Linked DNA regions of Homo sapiens: region 1 is linked to region 2. Evidence: fine-mapped expression QTL. A gene starts in region 2. The other region holds a variant in brackets. All regions are shown on one strand. Distances are from middle to middle.

Region 1 (2,907 bases), 330 kb after region 2:
GGCTGAGGCAGGCAGATCACGAGGTCAGGAGTTTGAGTCCAGCCTGACCAACATGGTGAAACTCTGTTTCTACTAAAAATACAAGAATTAGCTGGGCGTGGCCGTGTGTGTCTGTAATCCCTGCTACTCAAGAGGTTGAGGCAGGAGAATCGCTTGAACCCGGGAGGCAGAGGTTGCAGTGAGCTGAGATCGTGCCACTGTACTCCACCAGCCTGGGTGACAAGAGCGAGACTTTATCTCAAAAAATAAAAAAAAGAAGGTGCAACGGTAGATAACTAACCAGATAGAAGACACTCCATCTCAAAAAAAAAAAGGTGTGCATTTTGTGAAGTGCTTTTTCTTCAGTAATTGAAATTATTTTGTAATTCTTATTCCTGATTCCATAATAATGCTAATTTTATTAGTTTAGCTTTTGAATATTAAACCAACTTTGCATTTCTGGGTTAAATACCACCTCATGGGATACTTACAATTTTATATATTGCTGGTGTAGATTTTCTGTGATTTTGATAAGGTTTTTTTTGCATCTATGTTCATGAGAGATTTTAGTTTTCTTAAGTTGAAATGTCTATGACAGGTTTGGGCATTAGGGTTATTCTGACCTCATGAAATGAGTTTGGCATTTACTTTTTCTCTATTGGATGAACAGTTGGTATCAAGATTGGTGTTATTTATCCCTTAAATATTTGATAGAATTCACCAGCAGAACCATCCGGACTTAAAGTTTTCTCTGTGTGAAAATCTTGATAAAGTATTCAATTTCTTTGGCTACATGTATGTCTTCTTTTGAGATGTGTCTGCTTATGTGCTTTGCCTATGTTTTAATGGGGTTTTGGGTTTTTGCTTGTTAATTTGTTTAAGTTCCTTATAGATTCTGGATATTAGACCTTTGTCAAATACATAGTTTATAAATATTTTCTCCCATTCTGTAGGTGTCTGTTGATAATTTCTTTTGCTGTGCAGTGGCTCTTTAGTTTAATTAGGTCCCACTTGTCAATTTTTGGTTTTGTTGCAATTGCTTTTGGAGCCTTTATGTCATGAAACCTTTGTCAGGTCCTAGTCTAGAATGGTATTTCCTATTTTTTTTTTATAGTCTTGGGTTTTACATTTACGTCTTTAATCCATCTTAAGTTGATTTTTGTAGGTGGTGAAAGGAAGGGGTCCAGATTCAATCTTCTGCATATGGCTAGCCAGTTATATCAGCATTATTTATTGAATAAGGAGTCCCCTTTCCCCATTGCTTTCTTTGTCAACTTTGTTGAAGATCAGATGGTTGTAGTTGTGTGGCTTTACTTCTGGGTTCTGTAATCTGTTCTGTTGGACTTTATATCTATTTTTGTACCAGTACCATGTTGTTTGGTTTACTGTAGTCTTGTAGTATAGTTCAAAGTTGGATACTGTGATGGTGCCTCTAGCTTTGTTCTTTTTGCTAAGGATTGCTTTGGCTATTTGGGCTCTTTTTTGGTTCTATGTGAATTTAATAATAG[GT/G]TTTTTTTTTTTTTTTTGCTAATTTGGTGCAAAATACTGTTGGTAGTTTAAAAAATGTTCAATAGCTCTAATCATTAGAGAAATGCAAAGCAAAACCAGAATGAGATACCATCTCACACCAGTCAGAATGGCTATTATTAAAAAGTCAACAATAGCAGATGCTGGCAAGGTTGTGAAGAAAAGAGAATGTTTATACACTGTTGTTGGGAACATAAATTTGTTGAGCCACTGTGGAAAGCAGTTTGGAGATTTCTCAACCCAGCAATCCCATTACTGGGTATATACCCAAAGGAATATAATTGTTCTACCATAAAGGCACCTGCATGCATATGTTAATTGCAGCACTATTCGCAATAGAAAAAGCATAGAATCAACGTAGATGTCCATCAATAATGGACTGGATGAAGAAAATATACACATACATCATGAAATATACAGCCATAGAAAGTATGACATTATCTCCTTTGCAGCAACATAGATCGAGTTGGAGGCCATTATCCTAACCAATTTGATGCAGGAACACAAAACCAAATACTGCATGTTCTCACTTACAAGTGGGAGCTAAGCTTGAATACACATGGACACAAAGAAGGGAAGATTAGACACTGGGGCCTACTTGAGGATGGAGGGTAGGAGGAGAGTGAGCATGGAAAAACTACCTATCAGGTACTATGCTCATTACATGGGTGATGAAATAGTCTACATGCCAGATCCCCAAGTTTACTCATGTAACAAACCTGCACATGTACCCCCAAACCTAAAATAAAAATTGGAAAGAGAAAGATAATAACACTATGATGATGAAAAATAATACAAATTTTAAGAAGAATTCAATTTCTTTAAGATAAATAGGATTGATGAGGTTTTATGTTCAATCTTTCTCAATATGGTCAGTTATGTTTTTCAGTAAATTTAATATTTTTATTTAAGTTGACTAATTTGTTGTTATAAATTTCATATTTCTTTATTATCTTGTTAATATCTATGGATCTAATAGTGATGACTCTTATTTTATTCTGATATTGTTATTTTGTGATGTGTGATCTTTCTCTCATTTGCCTATTAGTTTACCTAGGAGTGTATCATCTTTTTCTTTTGATTTTGTTACTTTTCTCTCGTTTGTCTACCATTTCAATGATTACTGTTCCTGTCTTAATTACTCCTTTTCTTCTACTTATTATGGATTTAATTTCCTCTTCTTTTTAAAGCTTTGGAAGGTGGAACTGTATGATTTCTTCTGATTCATTGATTATTTTAAAGTGTGGTCATTTCTAAACATTTAATTTAAAAATAAAATATCTTATTATTTTTTATGATGACATTTTATTCTGGTGAGAGAAATATCTTATTATTTTTTATGATGACATTTTATTCTAGTGAGAGAACATACCTGTATAATCTCAATCAGTTTAAATTTAT
Region 2 (2,907 bases):
TCCCCACTCGCTCCAACCTCCCTCCCCCGCTATCCCCACTTGTGGGCCTCCAGCTCTCTGCCCCTTTCCTGGCCCCCATCCCTGACACCCCAGGGACCCTTCCTCCCTCCTCACGTTCTCCCTCCTTCCAGGATCCCGCCCCGACACTTCGGGGCCCTCCCGCTACGCGCACTCTTTCTCCTCAGGTCCTGACACCTGGGCGCCCCCTCCCTGTCACCCACCTTCAGCTCCAGCCCTGACTCTCGGGCGCCTTGCCACCCTTACGCTCCCCGCCCCGCCCCGGTCCCTCGGGCGCCCCCACTCGCCGCCTCTACCTCCCTACCTGCTACACCTGGCACCCCTGCCCCCACCCCTGCTCATACTCTTCCCCCGCCCCCGACACCTCGGGCGCCCCCTCACACGCTCCTATTCTCCACACTTCCGTCCCCGAAAACTCGGGCGCCCTCTCCCTTCACGCTCAGTCTCTCCTCCCTCCCCGCCCGGCCCCGGACCCAGCCTGGAGATCGCGCTCGGGAGGGGCGGCTGCCGCCCGCGGGGCGCCCGCGGTGCCCGGGCCTGGGCAGCGAGGAGGTGACGCCGCCCCCGCGGGATGAGCCCGGGAGGCGGAGGGGCGGAGGAGGTGCTGGCGGCGGCACTGAGCGGCGGCGGCGCAGGGCGCGCGGGCCTTCCGCGCCGACTCCATCGACCCAAGGGGCGGCGGCGGTGGCGGCGGCTGAGCGACCCTGGGCCGGGCGCGTGATGAGGAGGGGCCGGCGCCAGACCCCGCTGCACGTCGGAGCTCGCCTGGATCCGGGCGTTGGCAGCCGAAGGGCCCTGGCCCCGGGACTCTCCGCCGCTAGCCCCCGTCATATCTTCTCCGCTTTCGCTTCTCCACTCTAGCCGGGGGTGGGGTGGGTGGGGTTGGGGTCTCCGCGGGGGTTTCCGGCCCCGCGGCCCGCTCCCGGGTGTGCCTGGAGGAGTTCTCCCTCTGTGGCGCGCGGGAGCCCTGTGATGCGTCAGCCGGCGGGACGGATGAGTTGCTTCTCCGGGAAACCGTCCTCGCTTCCTCACGACCCTCTCGGCTCCCGCCTGGGTGCCCCTCGGGCCGGCAGTACTCCGCCTCCGGGCGCTCGAAGCGAGTTCCCCGGGGGCTTGTTCGCAGGCACCCCTTCCCCTCCGAGGCGGCGCGCGCGCTCCCGGCCCTGACCGCGGCCGGACACACTCGCGCCCCGGTCCGCCTGTCGCCCTCCCGCCTGCTCCCTCCAGTCACCCCACCCTTAGCTGTCCCCGCCACCTTACTCCACCACCCTCCCCCGCCTCTCCGCGCACTCCGCGTCCCGGCCTCCAGTTCCCCTTTCCCTTGAACCGCTCACTTCACAGCCCTTCGCCCCCGGGAAGAAGAAACATTTCCCGAAGCGCACTCCTCAGCCCTCCTTCCCCACGCGCTCGCCCTCCCCTCCCCCTGCTTTTCTTGGGGGAGGGGGGCTGTCGCCTTGGATTGAAGGCCATTGATTTGTATGTATTTGTCCCAGCGCTGGAGGCTGCCCCAGCCGCCGCGCCGGTGCCGCCGCTGCCAGTGGAGTTGCCTCCCCGCTTCCCTAGGGTGGTTCGGCTCCACCAAACATGTCGGCTCCTGTCGGGCCCCGGGGCCGCCTGGCTCCCATCCCGGCGGCCTCTCAGCCGCCTCTGCAGCCCGAGATGCCTGACCTCAGCCACCTCACGGAGGAGGAGAGGAAAATCATCCTGGCCGTCATGGATAGGCAGAAGAAAGAAGAGGAGAAGGAGCAGTCCGTGCTCAAGTAAGGACCTGGCTCCATATTCCCGCCTCTCTCCCTGCCCTCCGCCCCCTCGCCCACTGCCCTGCGGCCGCCTGCGCGCCCCAGTTCGCCGCCCTCCCTCCCGCTGGCGGCGCCCAGGCCACGAGGGCTGCGGCCAGCGCCGGCCGCCCGGGCTGTTTTAGGGGTGTCTGAGAGCAGGGGTGTGTGTCGGGGAGGGAGGGCGCCAAGGCCGGCTGAGGTGAGGGTGGCGAGCCTTAGGCGGTGTGATTTTCCTTGGCGCCTTTCCGGATTTCCTCGCTGGTCATCTTGGCTCCGGGGCCCCAGCGGGACTGGGGCTGAACCCAGGCTCTGTGCGTACCCTCTCCTTTCCCGCCGCGCTGAGGCAGTGACTGGGGCACAGAATCCAATATGGCCGTGCACAGGTGCTCCCTGGACGGACCCGGGCGAAGGCGCGCTGGCAGGGGATGCGGACGCCACCCTGGTCCCACGCCTCCGCGGGGCGGCTCTACCAGCAACGCGGGACAGAGCAGGGCTGCCCACAGTGGCTGCGAGCAGCGGGCGGCGGCGCGGGCTAGGGGCCTAAGCTCTGTCGCGGTCGGGTGGGTGTGCGTCCGCCGCCATCTTCCAGCCCCTCCCCCTCGGCGAGTGCTAACACCCTGCACTCTGCTGCTCTTCCTGTTTGCAACTAGTAAATCTGTTTAATCCTGAAGAGACTCCAGTTCCTACCATCACTGCAGTTTGGGATGCTCCCTACCTTGTGAAGTTCTACTATTCTTGCTCACGGTCTTGGCAGGCCGGGTTTTTCTGAGGGTGGTAGGAGTGAAAGCAGCACCCAGGCATGCGTTTACCGGCTCTGGAACTTCAGCACCAGGGAACTGTCCAGACAGGGTTATCTTTAGCTCTGAGACTACTTTTCTGGTTAGCGTAGCAAAGAGATTTGTTTCTACAAGGTTTGCTTTTGAATGTTTTATGGTTATTTGATTTCTCAGTTACTTTGTGAAAGAGGTTATTCAGAAGATGTGTAACCTTTTTATGTTTTTCCAGCTTGGCTTTTTTCTTTTTACTTGAAATGAGTTATTCAGATGATTCTTTTGCGTTTTGTCAAGTATACGTTTCCCATATTCTCCACAGAAATATACAATTGAAAGTG

Which allele goes with the higher level. Positions count from the first base shown, and alleles are read on the strand shown. Sizes are in standard deviations (SD) of each study's normalised expression.
For the expression in iPS cells of the gene that starts at base 1,326 in region 2, allele GT in region 1 goes with a higher level than allele G (large effect, 0.77 SD a copy in iPSCORE).

What was found. PIP is the estimated chance that this variant, and not a neighbour inherited with it, causes the effect.
Region 1: its variant is the best candidate, but not a certain one, in a credible set for the expression of RIMS2 in iPS cells (iPSCORE, PIP 0.56).

What each region holds. Positions count from the first base shown.
Region 1 is chr8:103,827,599-103,830,505 of GRCh38, forward strand. The region is part of intron 6 of RIMS2 (regulating synaptic membrane exocytosis 2); the gene reads left to right. Among named protein-coding and RNA genes, the nearest start is that of RIMS2, 330 kb to the left of the region's middle. The variant GT/G (reference allele first, on the strand shown) is at 1,488.
Region 2 is chr8:103,499,285-103,502,191 of GRCh38, forward strand. It overlaps RIMS2 (regulating synaptic membrane exocytosis 2), which reads left to right and starts at 1,326. Exons shown (of 30, transcript NM_001348484.3): 1 at 1,326-1,778. The coding sequence starts at 1,603. It overlaps LOC105375690 (a long non-coding RNA gene), which reads right to left and starts at 2,626. Exons shown (of 5, transcript NR_145698.1): 1 at 2,512-2,626. RefSeq lists a silencer at 2,437-2,731.